Linked DNA regions of Homo sapiens: region 2 is linked to region 1. A link means that fine-mapping ties the variant in region 1 to the expression of a gene that starts in the linked region. Tissue or cell type: whole blood. Region 1 holds a variant in brackets; the other region holds the start of a gene. All regions are shown on one strand. Distances are between the middles of the regions.

The links. PIP is the estimated chance that this variant, and not a neighbour inherited with it, causes the effect.
Region 2: SAPCD2 starts here. The variant in region 1 is fine-mapped to the expression of SAPCD2 in whole blood (TOPMed, PIP above 0.99).

The regions. Positions count from the first base shown.
Region 1 is chr9:137,009,018-137,017,183 of GRCh38, reverse strand. ABCA2 (ATP binding cassette subfamily A member 2) reads left to right here. Exons shown (of 49, transcript NM_001606.5): 19 at 60-264; 20 at 446-610; 21 at 713-893; 22 at 1,010-1,222; 23 at 1,313-1,509; 24 at 1,588-1,770; 25 at 2,087-2,271; 26 at 2,374-2,494; 27 at 2,780-3,016; 28 at 3,146-3,352; 29 at 3,621-3,723; 30 at 3,866-4,182; 31 at 4,259-4,472; 32 at 4,594-4,699; 14 more. Among named protein-coding and RNA genes, the nearest start is that of LINC02908, 14 kb to the left of the region's middle. RefSeq lists an enhancer at 5,549-6,748. The variant G/A (reference allele first, on the strand shown) is at 4,742.
Region 2 is chr9:137,065,524-137,073,689 of GRCh38, reverse strand. SAPCD2 (suppressor APC domain containing 2) reads left to right here and starts at 3,133. Exons shown (of 6, transcript NM_178448.4): 1 at 3,133-3,800; 2 at 7,316-7,428; 3 at 8,022-8,166. The coding sequence starts at 3,230. RefSeq lists enhancers at 1,992-2,971, 5,532-5,581, 4,934-5,914 and silencers at 3,076-3,485, 3,656-3,705, 3,756-3,805, 5,182-5,231.

The sequences.
Region 1 (8,166 bases):
GGCAGGCGGGCGGCTGGGGTGCCGGGCCACCCCACGTGCTGACACCACTGCCTTCTCAGTCCCTCATGTCCACGACGGCCTTTGGTCTGGGCTCTAAGTACTTCGCGCTGTATGAGGTGGCCGGCGTGGGCATCCAGTGGCACACCTTCAGCCAGTCCCCGGTGGAGGGGGACGACTTCAACTTGCTCCTGGCTGTCACCATGCTGATGGTGGACGCCGTGGTCTATGGCATCCTCACGTGGTACATTGAGGCTGTGCACCCAGGTACTGGCCAGCCCTTGGAGGGCAGGGGAGAGGCAGGGGTCCCCAGCCAGGGTTGGGGACCAGCAGTCTGTGTCCACTCCTGGATGCAGCACGGGTGGCTCCCTGGGTGGGCACGTGGCCCACGTGGTGGATGGTCACCCCAGGCCCTAGGTCAGCCTCCCCTCCCCTCCCCGACCCCCAGGCATGTACGGGCTGCCCCGGCCCTGGTACTTCCCACTGCAGAAGTCCTACTGGCTGGGCAGTGGGCGGACAGAAGCCTGGGAGTGGAGCTGGCCGTGGGCACGCACCCCCCGCCTCAGTGTCATGGAGGAGGACCAGGCCTGTGCCATGGAGAGCCGGCGCTTTGGTGAGGCTGGCATCAGAATGGTGGCTGGGGTGGGCGCTGGGTTCAGAGTCCTGGGTGGCCTTGGCGCCGCCCCCACCCTGCTGATCCACAGCCCTGGTGCAGAGGAGACCCGTGGCATGGAGGAGGAGCCCACCCACCTGCCTCTGGTTGTCTGCGTGGACAAACTCACCAAGGTCTACAAGGACGACAAGAAGCTGGCCCTGAACAAGCTGAGCCTGAACCTCTACGAGAACCAGGTGGTCTCCTTCTTGGGCCACAACGGGGCGGGCAAGACCACCACCATGTGAGTGTCGGAGGGGCAGGGCGGTGGGCATCTGCTGACCAGAGCAGGAGTCCTAGTCAGGGCAGGGTGGGGCCCCTGCAGAGGGCGTGGGGTCATGACCCCGCCCACCTACCCAGGTCCATCCTGACCGGCCTGTTCCCTCCAACGTCGGGTTCCGCCACCATCTACGGGCACGACATCCGCACGGAGATGGATGAGATCCGCAAGAACCTGGGCATGTGCCCGCAGCACAATGTGCTCTTTGACCGGCTCACGGTGGAGGAACACCTCTGGTTCTACTCACGGCTCAAGAGCATGGCTCAGGAGGAGATCCGCAGAGAGATGGACAAGTGGGTGGGCTGGGCGGGGGGCGGGGCAGGTGGGCGGAGGCCCTGGGGCTCTGCATAGCAGCAGCCCCATGCCCCACCTCCCTGTCCCAGGATGATCGAGGACCTGGAGCTCTCCAACAAACGGCACTCACTGGTGCAGACATTGTCGGGTGGCATGAAGCGCAAGCTGTCCGTGGCCATCGCCTTCGTGGGCGGCTCTCGCGCCATCATCCTGGACGAGCCCACGGCGGGCGTGGACCCCTACGCGCGCCGCGCCATCTGGGACCTCATCCTGAAGTACAAGCCAGGTGAGTGGGGTGCCGTGTGGGCAGGGGTGCGGGCGGCGCCTCCCCTGCCCCCTGACCCTGGGTCTGGCCTTGTCCTAGGCCGCACCATCCTTCTGTCCACCCACCACATGGATGAGGCTGACCTGCTTGGGGACCGCATTGCCATCATCTCCCATGGGAAGCTCAAGTGCTGCGGCTCCCCGCTCTTCCTCAAGGGCACCTATGGCGACGGGTACCGCCTCACGCTGGTCAAGCGGCCCGCCGAGCCGGGGGGCCCCCAAGGTCTGTGTTGAAGCTGCCTGAGCTGGCTTCGGGCCACCTTCTCCCCGGGACCCCCACCTGAGAATCCACAATGGAGAGGCTGGGCCCTCACCGTCACCCGCTGGGCCCAGGATGCCTGCTGGGGCCTGGCCCGCCCTCTGCAACGCCCGTATCTTGGAGAGGCTGGGTCCTCAGCGTCACCCCCTGGGCCCAGGATACCTGCTGGGGCCTGGTTCTTCCTCTCCAATGCCCATATCTTGACCCAGTTGGGTTCCCATTGGGGGTCCCTCCTCCCAGCCCCTGAGTGAATTCCTTCCTGCTCCCACGTCCCCCACAGAGCCAGGGCTGGCATCCAGCCCCCCAGGTCGGGCCCCGCTGAGCAGCTGCTCCGAGCTCCAGGTGTCCCAGTTCATCCGCAAGCATGTGGCCTCCTGCCTGCTGGTCTCAGACACAAGCACGGAGCTCTCCTACATCCTGCCCAGCGAGGCCGCCAAGAAGGGGGCTTTCGAGCGCCTCTTCCAGGTGTGAGGGCGCACGGGTCGGGGGGCAGTTGCAGGTGGTGGAGGTGGGCGCACTCCTGCCTGGGCGTCCCTGCCGCAGCCTCCCCCTCCACCGCCCCTGCAGCACCTGGAGCGCAGCCTGGATGCACTGCACCTCAGCAGCTTCGGGCTGATGGACACGACCCTGGAGGAAGTGTTCCTCAAGGTGTCGGAGGAGGATCAGTCGCTGGAGAACAGTGAGGCCGGTGAGGGGCCTGGACCACTTGCTCAGCCCACCCCACCCACAAGGCCCCAGCTCGGGCCTGCGCTGTCACTCCTGCCTGGTGTCTGGGGGCGCCACCCTGGTCCTGGGTGGAAGCCAGGGGACGCCCCGGGGTTAGCCTGCGGTCCTAGGTGGGTGGTCCTGGTGGCCAGAGGTCCCGGACAGGTGTATGAGCCTGGGAACTGGGGTCAAGACCGGGGATGGGGGTCCTGGGCAGGCCTAGGGGCCAGTAGCCCTGAGTGTCCCCTCGGCCCTTCCACTGCGGCAGATGTGAAGGAGTCCAGGAAGGATGTGCTCCCTGGGGCGGAGGGCCCGGCGTCTGGGGAGGGTCACGCTGGCAATCTGGCCCGGTGCTCGGAGCTGACCCAGTCGCAGGCATCGCTGCAGTCGGCGTCATCTGTGGGCTCTGCCCGTGGCGACGAGGGAGCTGGCTACACCGACGTCTATGGCGACTACCGCCCCCTCTTTGATAACCCACAGGACCCAGACAATGTCAGCCTGCAAGGTGGGGGTGGCAGGGTGAGGCTGGGACAGCAAGGGAGGGGGAGCAGGGTTGCGGGGGAGCGGCATGAGGGCAGCCAGTAGGGAGAGGGTAGCGTGCAACCACCTGCTCAGCCTCTACCTCTCTGCACAGAGGTGGAGGCAGAGGCCCTGTCGAGGGTCGGCCAGGGCAGCCGCAAGCTGGACGGCGGGTGGCTGAAGGTGCGCCAGTTCCACGGGCTGCTGGTCAAACGCTTCCACTGCGCCCGCCGCAACTCCAAGGCACTCTTCTCCCAGATCTTGCTGCCAGCCTTCTTCGTCTGCGTGGCCATGACCGTGGCCCTGTCCGTCCCGGAGATTGGTAGGCCACCGGCTGGACAGGGGTGCTGGGCTTGCCTCCCCCCACCGCCCGCTGGGAGCCCTGATGATGCCCACTCCTGAGCTTCCTGACTCTGGGCCTCACCCCACACCTGAGGCTGGGCACGCACCGGGGTTCATCCGGGAGTCCTGTCTCCTCGGGTCCCAGACCCCAGGCGTGGATCCCTTGGGGTTGGGGGAAGGGGACCGAGGCTTGGGGGCCGCTGGCCAGAGGGCAGAACCTGCTCAGGCCTCCCTGCTCGCCCTGCCAGGTGATCTGCCCCCGCTGGTCCTGTCACCTTCCCAGTACCACAACTACACCCAGCCCCGTGGCAATTTCATCCCCTACGCCAACGAGGAGCGCCGCGAGTACCGGTGAGGCCTCCAGCGGGGGCAGCCTTGGTGGGTGGGGCGAGTGAAGGGGCGGGGACAGCCTTGGTGGGCCAGGCGGGCGAGGGGGCGGGGCTGGCGAGGGGCGGAGACTGGCAGCCCCACCTCACACTGTCGGTGCCCGCAGGCTGCGGCTATCGCCCGACGCCAGCCCCCAGCAGCTCGTGAGCACGTTCCGGCTGCCGTCGGGGGTGGGTGCCACCTGCGTGCTCAAGTCTCCCGCCAACGGCTCGCTGGGGCCCACGTTGAACCTGAGCAGCGGGGAGTCGCGCCTGCTGGCGGCTCGGTTCTTCGACAGCATGTGTCTGGAGTCCTTCACACAGGGGCTGCCACTGTCCAATTTCGTGCCACCCCCACCCTCGCCCGCCCCATCTGACTCGCCAGCGTCCCCGGATGAGGACCTGCAGGCCTGGAACGTCTCCCTGCCGCCCACCGCTGGGCCAGGTAGTGGTTCAGGGGGCCTGCTGGGGGGGCAGGGGCAGTGAGGGGTCCTTCTCACCGCACCATGCTGTGCCCACAGAAATGTGGACGTCGGCACCCTCCCTGCCGCGCCTGGTACGGGAGCCCGTCCGCTGCACCTGCTCTGCGCAGGGCACCGGCTTCTCCTGCCCCAGCAGTGTGGGCGGGCACCCGCCCCAGATGCGGGTGGTCACAGGCGACATCCTGACCGACATCACCGGCCACAATGTCTCTGAGTACCTGCTCTTCACCTCCGACCGCTTCCGACTGCACCGGTGAGCTGGGTGGGGAGGCTGTGGGTGAGGGTGGCCGGCCACCAGCCACCTAGTCTCAACTCCTGCCCCTCTAGCCTCACTGCCTGCCTAGCCTCACCGCCCCTCCCACCTGCCTGCCCAGGTATGGGGCCATCACCTTTGGAAACGTCCTGAAGTCCATCCCAGCCTCATTTGGCACCAGGGCCCCACCCATGGTGCGGAAGATCGCGGTGCGCAGGGCTGCCCAGGTGAGCGAGGCTGCGGGCCTGGGCCCCGCTGTGTGTAGCGCC[G/A]CCCGAGGTCTGCAGGGACCCAGGTCTGAGGTCCTGGGGCCTTTCTGTGTCCTCTTCCTTCTGCAGGTTTTCTACAACAACAAGGGCTATCACAGCATGCCCACCTACCTCAACAGCCTCAACAACGCCATCCTGCGTGCCAACCTGCCCAAGAGCAAGGGCAACCCGGCGGCTTACGGTGAGCTGACATAGGCAGGGCGGGGCGGGGCGGGGAGGAGCTGGGGCCGGGGCGGGGAGGAGCTGGGGCCTGAAGCTGCCGCCCCCGCCCCGCCGTGTGCAGGCATCACCGTCACCAACCACCCCATGAATAAGACCAGCGCCAGCCTCTCCCTGGATTACCTGTAAGTGTGGCCAGTGGGGGATGAGGTGGGGCAGGTGGGCACTGCAGCCCCGGCCGTGAGGACTGAGGGCTTCCTTGCCCCAGGCTGCAGGGCACGGATGTCGTCATCGCCATCTTCATCATCGTGGCCATGTCCTTCGTGCCGGCCAGCTTCGTTGTCTTCCTCGTGGCCGAGAAGTCCACCAAGGCCAAGCACCTGCAGTTTGTCAGCGGCTGCAACCCCATCATCTACTGGCTGGCGAACTACGTGTGGGACATGGTGCGCCCGGCGTGGCCATGGGGTGCCCCGGCCCTTCTCATCCCCCATCCCCGCCCTGCCCCGGGTCTCTCACCAGCCGCCCCCACCCCTGCAGCTCAACTACCTGGTCCCCGCTACCTGCTGTGTCATCATCCTGTTTGTGTTCGACCTGCCGGCCTACACGTCGCCCACCAACTTCCCTGCCGTCCTCTCCCTCTTCCTGCTCTATGGGTAAGCGGAAGCGGAGGGGGGAGCGGCCTCAGGTGGGACCGGGGCTGCCTGGTGACCACTGCCCGCCACCTGCCCGCAGGTGGTCCATCACGCCCATCATGTACCCGGCCTCCTTCTGGTTCGAGGTCCCCAGCTCCGCCTACGTGTTCCTCATTGTCATCAATCTCTTCATCGGCATCACCGCCACCGTGGCCACCTTCCTGCTACAGCTCTTCGAGCACGACAAGGTGGGGCGGTGACGACATGGTGGGGGTGGCGGACCCTGCGGAGGCTGTGCCCCTCACCCCGGCCACCCCTGTGCCCCTGACCCCGGCCACCCCGCAGGACCTGAAGGTTGTCAACAGTTACCTGAAAAGCTGCTTCCTCATTTTCCCCAACTACAACCTGGGCCACGGGCTCATGGAGATGGCCTACAACGAGTACATCAACGAGTACTACGCCAAGATTGGTGAGGGGGCCCGTGGGGCGGGGAAGGCGGTGGGGGCCCCGCAAGGCCCAGAGCACAGGCCCTGAGCTGTCTCCCCGCAGGCCAGTTTGACAAGATGAAGTCCCCGTTCGAGTGGGACATTGTCACCCGCGGACTGGTGGCCATGGCGGTTGAGGGCGTCGTGGGCTTCCTCCTGACCATCATGTGCCAGTACAACTTCCTGCGGCGGCCACAGTGAGTGGGGGGCGGGGTGGGGCGGGGGCGGGGCGGGAGCAGGGATGGGTTCGGGGGTGGGGCAGGGTAGGGGCGGGGGTGGGGGCAGGGATGGGGCAGGAGGGGGTGAGGCAGGGGACAGCAGAGGGGCCTGCCCACCCTTCTTACATGCCACAGCCAGAGGATGCGAGGCTGGTGGCAGGGAGGGGCAGTGGGGGTGGCGAGCTGCTGGACACTGTCCACCCTGTCCCCCAAGGCGCATGCCTGTGTCTACCAAGCCTGTGGAGGATGATGTGGACGTGGCCAGTGAGCGGCAGCGAGTGCTCCGGGGAGACGCCGACAATGACATGGTCAAGATTGAGAACCTGACCAAGGTGGGCTCTGGGCATGTAGGGTGGGGCCTGGGTGGGGTAGGCCAGGGCCAGGGGGGTGGGGCCCCAGCAGTGGAGGTGGAGCCTGGGTGGGCAGGGCCCTGAGCTCTGGGGGTGGGGCCTGCATGGGGTGGGGCTGTGGGGCACGTGGCCCCCTGGGCTCTGGAGGTGGGGCAGGGTCTGGGTGGGGTGGGGCCAGAGGGGCAGGGTGGGGGCAGGATGCCCCGCTGAGTGGGCAGGCTCCTGGCCAGGTCTACAAGTCCCGGAAGATTGGCCGTATCCTGGCCGTTGACCGCCTGTGCCTGGGTGTGCGTCCTGGCGAGTGCTTCGGGCTCCTGGGCGTCAACGGTGCGGGCAAGACCAGCACCTTCAAGATGCTGACCGGCGACGAGAGCACGACGGGGGGCGAGGCCTTCGTCAATGGACACAGGTGGGGCGGGAGCCCTGGGTGGGCGGGGCCGCCGCGTCCTCACGCGCTGACAGCTGCCGTGTCCCCAGCGTGCTGAAGGAGCTGCTCCAGGTGCAGCAGAGCCTCGGCTACTGCCCGCAGTGTGACGCGCTGTTCGACGAGCTCACGGCCCGGGAGCACCTGCAGCTGTACACGCGGCTGCGTGGGATCTCCTGGAAGGACGAGGCCCGGGTGAGGATCTGTGGGGCGGGGCAGGGAGTCAGCACGCTGGGTGGCCCTGCCTCCACTGACACCTGCGTTCCCTGGCCAGGTGGTGAAGTGGGCTCTGGAGAAGCTGGAGCTGACCAAGTACGCAGACAAGCCGGCTGGCACCTACAGCGGCGGCAACAAGCGGAAGCTCTCCACGGCCATCGCCCTCATTGGGTACCCAGCCTTCATCTTCCTGGTAAGTCCTGGGTGGGTGGGGGGTGGCTGCCTGGCCTTTGACTTCCTGGTGAGCACGGGCAGGGGCAGCGTTCAGGCTGGGGTGTGTGGGCCTGGCAGCAGCTGAGCCTGCCACCCATCCCCAGGACGAGCCCACCACAGGCATGGACCCCAAGGCCCGGCGCTTCCTCTGGAACCTCATCCTTGACCTCATCAAGACAGGGCGTTCAGTGGTGCTGACATCACACAGGTGAGGGCGCCCCCACCCCCTCTTTGTGCCCCCACCCCACAGCACCCCTTCCGGTGCCAGCCTGTGCATGTCCCACAGCATGGAGGAGTGCGAGGCGCTGTGCACGCGGCTGGCCATCATGGTGAACGGTCGCCTGCGGTGCCTGGGCAGCATCCAGCACCTGAAGAACCGGTGAGCCGGGGCAGGGCCAGGGGTGGGCTGGGGCGGGCCCGGGGGGGGCGGCCAGGCAGCGGGGCCAGGAGTGGGGGTGGCTGCAGGGCTGTGAGGGCTGTGGGGCCAGGGGGGCTGGGGGCACTGGGGCTGGGGGGACTGGGGCAGTGGGGCCAGGGGAGGAGCCTGGAGGGCTGTGGGGGCTGTGGGGTTGGGGGGCTGTGGGAGGCTATGGGGCTTCCTGGGGTGCCTGTGGGGGCTGTAGGGCTGGGAGGCTGGGGGGCTGGGGCTCTGGCTGGGCGGCGCAGGGCTCCGGGCCACCGGCCTGTCCCACCAGGTTTGGAGATGGCTACATGATCACGGTGCGGACCAA
Region 2 (8,166 bases), 57 kb before region 1:
TTCTTCACTTGGTGCCCACTGCTGGGGATACATCAGGGGACAGAGGGGCCGGTCTTCCTGCCACCTCTGCCCAGAGTGGTCCAGGCTTACACAGTGAGAACACAATTACAGCTAAGATGGGGCCTCCAAAAGTACAGGGACAGCATGGGACCCCCAGGGGTGACACAGCACTAAAACCTGAAGGATTGGGAAACTATCAGGCCAGCCGGAAAGTGGAGTGAAGGAGGAAGTGGTCAGAGCTCAGGACAGGAAGGACACAGGACCACATCTTAGCTCCACGCCCAAAGCCAGGCACAGCCTCCAGTCTTTTTTTTTTTTTTTGAGACGGAGTCTCGCTCTGTCGCCCAGGCTGGAGTGCAGTGGTGCCATCTCGGCTCACTGCAAGCTCCGCCTCCTGGATTCACGCCATTCTCCTGCCTCAGCCTCCCGAATAGATGGGACTACAGACGCCCGCCACCACGCCCGGCTCATTTTTTGTGTGTGTGTGTGTTTTTAGTAGAGACGGGGTTTCACCATGTTAGCCAGGATGGTCTCGATCTCCAGACCTCGTGATCCTCCCGCCTTGGCCTCCCAAAGTGCTGGGATTACAGGCATGAGCCACCGTGCCCAGCCTTTTTTTTTTTTTTTTTTTGAGATGGAGTTTTGCTCTTCTTGACCAGGCTAGAGTGCAATGGCGCGATCTTGGCTCACCGCAACCTCCACCTCCGGGGTTCAAGCTATTCTCCTGCCTCAGCCTCCCGAGTAGCTGGGATTACAGGCATGGGCCACCATGCCCGGCTAATTTCGTATTTTTAGTAGAGACGGGATTTCTCCATGTTGGTCAGGCTGGTCTCGAACTCCTGACCTCAGGTGATCCGCCCGCCTTGGCCTCCCAAAGTGCTGGGATTACAGGCGTGAGCCACCGTGCCCGGCCTCCAGTCTTTTTCATACCTTCCTCCAATACCCAGCCAGGGGCCACAGAGAAGCCCACAGACCAAGGGCCAGCTGGGGCCGCCTCCCCCAAGGCTCTGGATGGTATGAAAAGCCCTTGTTTCATCTGCACGGTGGGTTCAGTTCCATGCGGGGCCATGGCTGGCCTGGCCTGGACACTGCTGGCCACGCTGTCCTGAGCTGCAGCAGCCTTGCTCACTGCTGGCCACCGACTCCACATCCACACTGGCCTCCCCTGCCATACCACTGAGCTGTTCCCAGCCCTTCCCCATCCCTTAGGCCTCAGCCTGGCTTGGTGCCCACTCAAGGATGGTGTTTCCCATATGATTTCACTGGATACGGCTCCCCAGTGCCATTCACAGAGCACCCACTGTGGGCCAGGCCAATGCCAGGCCTAGAAGGAGCCCTGTCCTGCTTGCAAATAGCCAGGGCCCCCTGGGCCAGGAGAAAGCTGTCCCCTGTGTTTTATCTAACTAGGCTTCAGGGGGAAGGGGACTGGGGCCAGAGCAGAGTTCTGAAGGATGTAGTGCGGTCAGCCTGGAGCAGAGGGGAAGGGCCTTCCTGGTAGAAGAGCCACCAGGCACAGGGGCCTGGAAGTGAGGGAGTGCAGGGACCCCAGGCCTGGCACTGGCGGTGAGGGGTGTGCTGGAAGCAGGGTAGGTGTGGGGATGGGGGGGCGGGGGCTTGCGTGTTGTGCTGGTTTGTTTTGTTTTGTTTTGTTTTTGAGACAAGATCTCGCTCTGTCACCCAGGATGGAGAGCAGTGGCTCAATCACAGCTCACTGCAGCCTCAACCTCTTGGGTTCAAGGGATCCTCCCACCTCAGCCTCCCAAATACCTGGGACCACAGGCATGCACCACCACGCCTGGCTAATTTTTTAAACTTTTTGTAGAAATAGGGTTGCCTTATGTTGCCCAGGCTGGTCTTGAACTCCCCAGCTCAAGTGATCCTCCCGCCTCGGCCTCGTGCTGGGTTTTTGAGCAGACCAGCCATTAAAGGGGAAGCTGGCTTACAGGACCAAGCTCTGATGGGCTGCTCCAGGCTCAGAGCTTCTTATGTCCTTCCAGCATTCCCTACGATGAAGGAGTCCCACTTAGAGTGAGTGACCCAGAAGAGAAGTGGACCCAGGATACTCCCTGGCCTGGGAAGATGCCTCTACAGCTTGAGACACAGGCACCAGTGGCTCAGGCCTGAGGACAGAGACCCAGGTAGGTATGCCAGCTGAGGCCTGCCCAGGAGGGAGGGTGGGAGACCCGCAGAGGGCCAAGGCAAGTCTCGGATTGGGGGCCTGTCTGGGGAGGGTGTTTGCACCCTGAACACCTCCCTGGAACCTAGAGGGTACTACTGGCCAGCCCTGAGATGGGCTCCCAGGGCTAGAACCCAGGCTAAGGCCTGGTCTCACCTCCCATGTGGACAGACCAAATGAAGACAGAGTGACCAGATCCCAGCTGGAAACACAGCAGAGGCAGGGGGACAGGGCTGCGGGAGCCAGGAGAGCAGCTGGAGGAGGTGTCCAGCCAGGGGAAGGAGGAGAGGAGAGCAAGAGGCAGAGGGAGCTGGTCACTAGATGGGGATCTGGGGACACAGGAGAAAGTGGCTTTGTTCTGCAGCAGGCAGGCCAGGCCAGACTGTCCCGAGGGACCAGAGGAGGAGCCAGCAGCAGTGGGGACAGAAAGGCCTCTGTGAGTGGGAAGCGCCCAGCTGGCTGGAGCCTACGATCCTCTTGGGGCCCTCCTGGTGGAAGAGAAGGGGGCCGCAGGGTCACCTGTGCTTGCGGCCAGGGAACTAGAGGGGAAAAGTGGGATCTTTGGAGGGGGTGCCCCCCCCCATTCTTACCCCACGAGGCTACCTGGAGACAGGTTTTTTTGTAGGGTGCCAGGCCCCGCCCCTTGGAGAGGTGGCCGGGGCAGCCAGCCACAGCTGGATCCGAGAAAGCGCCTGGCCGCGGCAGGAGGTTTGGTGGGGCTGGGGCGGGGCAGAAAGGAAGGTCTGCGAGGCCAGAGTGGAGCAGGAGCTGGGGGATCCGGTTCCGCCTGCCCAGGGCCTCCGCGCGCCTCCCAGGGCCACTCGGCAAGAAAAAAAAAAAAAAAATCAAACCTCCTCTCAGCCTATCAGAGAGCAGATGGGACGGGCTCGGCCAATGGCCGCGGCGCATGTTAATGAGGGCTGACGCCGCGAGGAGGGCCCCATTCAAAAGTAGTCGCTATTGTCGCCGTGGGCTGAGCTCGCCGGGCCGGCCCCTCCGTGGGGCCGCGCTGGGACGCACGCGGGTGGACGAGGGGACCGATCCCGGGCGCCCATGGCCGGGGCCGCCATGGCCGAGCGGGGCCGCGTGCCTCCCCCCGCACCCGCGCCCAGCACGGAGGGGCTGCCGCGCGCCTTCCTGCAGAGCCTGCGCACCCTGTTCGACATCCTGGACGACCGGCGGCGCGGCTGCGTGCACCTGCGCGAGATCGAGTCCCGCTGGCAGGGCACCGACGCGCGGGAGCTGCCCCGCGGGGTGCTGGAGGGCTTGCGCCAGGTGGCCCCGGCCAGCGGCTACCTGACCTTCGAGCGCTTCGTGGCCGGCCTGCGCACCTCCCTGCTGAGCGCCGACGGCGGCCCCCGGGACCCCACGCGCGCCCCGGCCCGGCCCGGGGATCAGCCGCCGCCGCCGCCGCAGCGCCTGGTGTTCGCTCCGGCCGACGAGCCGCGGACGGTCCTGGAGAGGAAGCCCCTGCCCCTGGGCGTGCGCGCCCCTCTGGCCGGTCCCAGCGCCGCCGCCCGCAGCCCGGAGCAGCTGTGCGCCCCGGCTGAGGCGGCGCCCTGCCCCGCGGAGCCCGAGCGGTCCCAGAGCGCGGCGCTGGAACCGAGCTCCAGCGCGGACGCAGGTGAGTTCCGGACGGCCCCCGGGCACCCTCGTAGCTCTCCCGGGCCCGGGCCAGAAACCGCAGTCCCACAGCTGCTGCCCGTGCATTTCCCACAAGGGACGGGACCGGGGAGCGGCTCTTCGTGGACTCCGGATCCTGGAGGGCGCCTCGGCGGGTCTGGAGGGAAAGGGCTTCATGCTTGTCGCGGTGAGCCCAGGGGCTTGCTTAGGGAGGCAAGCCAGACCCTCTCCTGCCACAGCATAAGGCCACCAGGGCCGGGGGGTGGCAGGTGACTCAGAAAACCCACCGGGAGCCCAACCTGTACCAAGCCTGAGCTTGGGCTCTCCATCTCCAATACCCTTTCCGCACCTGGGGACACCTGGGCCCTCAGCCTCCTGTCTGTGGCTGCTCAGGCAGAAGTGCTTCCTTCTCAAAGAAAGGGTCCCCCTTCTCAGTGTGACAGCTTAGCCAGGGGGGCTGGGCCCACTGACCCCACTGAGGCCTAGGCAGGCGGGGGCTGCTGCTGGTGGCCCAAGAGGACCTGGCCCTGTTGCCAAGATGGGCAGGGGCGTGGGTGGATCTCCTGCACCCCAGTGGGGCTGTACTATGGCAGATGCCATGGAGGGACATAGGCCGTAGTCCCTGGGGATGGCTGGCACACTCCTCTCCTGCCTTCCGGTCCAGTTGGCAGTGATGGGAGATTGCTGAATGGTCCCCTGTCTCCCCCAACCCAGTGCCTGCCTTGGGAACAGGACCTGTATTATGGCTGGGGTTGGGGGGCCAAGCTCCCAGAGGGGCCCCAGGCCCCACAGCCCATTCGGCCTGTGCACCCGTTCTGCCAGGGGAGGCCTGCCCACCGGTGGCTCCTGCCGGTCCCTGTGCTGCCTGCTGCTCTGCCACCCTCCCTGTACTGCTCCCCCACCTCAGCCATATTCTCCAGCCCTACAGCTGGTGTTTGGAGCCACGGCGGCCCTGGCCTCCCTGGTGATCTGATCCAGCAGCCACACCAGGCTGGGGGACCCCTAGTTCTATGGTGAGGGAACCTTCAGAGGGTATCTGGCTCCAAATGCAGGGTCAGCGTCATCCATGTGGCCATGCAGTTTGAAATCAGCCATGGGATTGCACGCTGTGGCCGGGCCTGGGGTTTGGAGGCCTAAGCCTGTGGTCCACCCCTGCTCTGCTCTGATGCCCCATGCGGCACTGGCTCACGTACCACATCTCCCTGAAGGCCACATGGCTAGGGCTGTAGCTGTCACCCTCTCACAGGCAAACGGAGGGCCAGACAAATGGCGTGACATATTTGATTGACACAGCTGGCTTTTGGGGTGTCAAATCTGGAGCTCTGAGGTCACCCCAACTCCCAGAAAGCCTGCCAACACACACAGCCTTCCAAGCCCCCAGCCCAGATGTTCAGGGCCTCTTTCCTTGTTCCCACCTGGGACTGCGTGTTTGCTCCAGGCTGGCTGTGGCCCTGGAGGTGTGGCCTGCTGGCTCAGGGCCCTGGAGGGGCAGAGCCACCACCCCCACCTAGAGGCCATCTAGCTCATCACCCAGCACGCTGCTATCTGGGGACCCAGGAGCTGCTCTATGGACTCAACTGTACAGACCGGGCCCAGGTGTCCTGGGACTTCCTCTATGGCCTCCCTCTGTCTGTACCCTCTCTGCTCCCACCTCCTGAAGGGCTGTGTGCTCTTCCACTGTCTTGCCCCAGAGCTGCCAGCCGCTCAGCACCGCAGGCTGGAGTGCGAATTCGGGCCTGCCTGGAGCCAGGCTCTCTGCCGTGCCTACCTGGGCCCAATTCTTGCATCACTCCCTGACTCCTGTGGCCAGGTGCCAGGGGCATGGCCTCTAAGGATGTGCCTGGTGCTGGGGCTACAGCTGGAGGCCGAAGGAGGATGCCTTCCTCCACACCTGTACCCACTTCTGTAGCCTGGGGAGGTGCACCTACTCCCTCACCAGGAAGCTGGGCCGGAGTGGCACCAACGCGATACTCTTGGCTGCCCCCAGGGGGAGCCCTCAAACAAACTTCAGAGCAGGGGTCTGTGAGCACCAGGACGTGCCTGACTTGTCAGTTGGGTGCACCGCCTGGCGTATCACACACGCGGGACTTTTTTTTTTTTTTTTTTTTTTTTTTTTGAGATGGAGTCTTGCTCTGTCGCCCAGGCTGGAGTGCAGTGGCGCGAATCTCAGCTCACTGCAACCTCCGCCTCCTGGGTTCAAGCGATCCTCCTGCTTCAGCCTCCCGAGTAGCTGGGATTACAGGTGCATGCCACCACGCCCTGCTAATTTTTGTATTTTTAGTAGAGACAGGGTTTCACCATGTTGGCTAGGCTGGTCTTGAACTCCTGACCTCAACTGATCCCCCCCCGCCCCAGCTTCCCAAAGTGCTGGGATTACAGGTGTGAGCCACCGTGCCCGGCAAGGGATCTTTTTTTTTTTTGAGACAAAGTTTTGCTGTGTTGCCCAGCCTGGAGTGCAGTGGCGCAATCTGGGCTCAGTGGAACCTCTGCCTCCCAGGCTCAAGCAATCCTCCTGCCTCAGGCTCCTGAGTAGCCGGGACCACAGGTGCATGCCACTGCACCAGGCTAATTTTTGTGTTTCTAATAGAAATGGGGTATTGCCGGCCGGGCACAGTGGCTCACGCCTGTAATTCCAGCACTTTGGGAGGCTGAGGTGGGTGGATCACCTGAGGTCAGGAGTTCAGGACCAGCCTGGTCAACATGGTGAAACCTCATCTCTACTAAAAAATACAAAAAGTAGCTGGGCATGGTAGTGGGTGTCTGTAATCCCAGCTACTCGGGAGGCTGAGACCGGAGAATCACTTGAACCTGGGAGGCGGAGGTTGCAGTGAGCCAAGATCATACCATTGCACTCCAGCCTGGGCAACAGGAACAAAACAACGTCTCAAGAAAAAAAGGAAGAAATGGGGTTTTGCCATGTTGCCCAGGCTGGTCTCAAACTCCTGAGCTCAAGCGATCCACCCGCCTTGGTCCCCAAAAGTGCTGGGATTACAGGCGTGAGCCACTGTGCCCGGCCATGCGGGACTAACTTTCTATCAGAGTCACCATCCTGGGAAAAGTTAGGTTTCCGTCATTCACACCCACATCTCCTGCTGCCTTGCAGGACCCCGTGCAGATGGGAGAGGCGTAGTCAGGACCAGAACCCCCCCGCCCACTCCTCCCTTACCCAGCTGCCTTGGAGACCCAGGGTGTGCCTGCCATGTTCTGGGCACTGGGTGTGCAGAAGAGAGCTGGATAAGGCCTCTGGCCCCAGAGAGCTCACGGACCGATGAGGGGGCAGGGTGTGTGTTTGAGCAAACATGCGGGCTTGGCGGCACAGCCCTCCCCAAGCCAGTGTGAGGAGCTGGAAAGGGGAGAGGGACCAAACTCCAGCCTGGCACAGAGGCTACACGTGGGCCATGCCAGGCTGGTGCCCGAGACCTCGAGGGTGGGCTGAGATGTGGAGGCCGCTGCACCTCAGCAGAGCCTGGCCAGGCAGGTCTGGAGGTGAGCCAGGCCCATGCCTCTCCATAACAGGTGCAGTGGCGTGCAGGGCCCTGGAGGCGGACTCAGGGGATGCCCGGCGGGCTCCCCGTGCCCGAGGGGAACGTCGGAGGCACACCATCGCCAGCGGCGTGGACTGCGGCCTGGTGAGCAGGGACTGGGGCTCTGTGGGGCTCTCCATCTTGCCTGGAGGCTGGAGGCCGGGATGGGAGCAGGGGGGCCTTGAGCCTGGGGGAGTCCATGGCGGAAGTACAGTCAGCTCTGGACATCTCTCTCCCTACCTGGGCTTGACTCCCCTGGAGGGATGGCCCAGGGTCAGGCAGAGGGAGGTCAAGAGGTCGTTTAGGGCAGCTATGGTGGCTGCCCAGCCCGCCTCACGAGGTTGCTGCTGCAAGCCAGTCTGGCTTCCCAGCTGTGTGCTCACCACAGGCAGACTTCGGGAGGGTGGGCTCAGCTGAAGGGTCCGTCACCCCTCCCCCAGGGAAGCCTGAGTGGAGGGGCTAAGAAAGGCCAAGACCCCTCAGCAGGAGGAACGGGGCTCCTGCTCCAAATGGGCCTATGGGGCTCACACATGCAGGTGTCAGCAGAAGCGTGCGTCCGTGGGTGTTTGCAAACGTGTACACGTGCTGCTGCATTTGTGTCTGTGGCTCTGGTGCCCACCCACAGGTGAGCTCATGCATGTGTGGACGTGTGCGTGCTCACTGGGGCCAGGCATTCCATGTAAATGCACGTATTGCAGCTGAAGCAGATGAAGGAGCTGGAGCAGGAGAAGGAGGTGCTGCTGCAGGGTTTGGAGATGATGGCGCGGGGCCGCGACTGGTACCAGCAGCAGCTGCAACGAGTGCAGGAGCGCCAGCGCCGCCTGGGCCAGAGCAGAGCCAGCG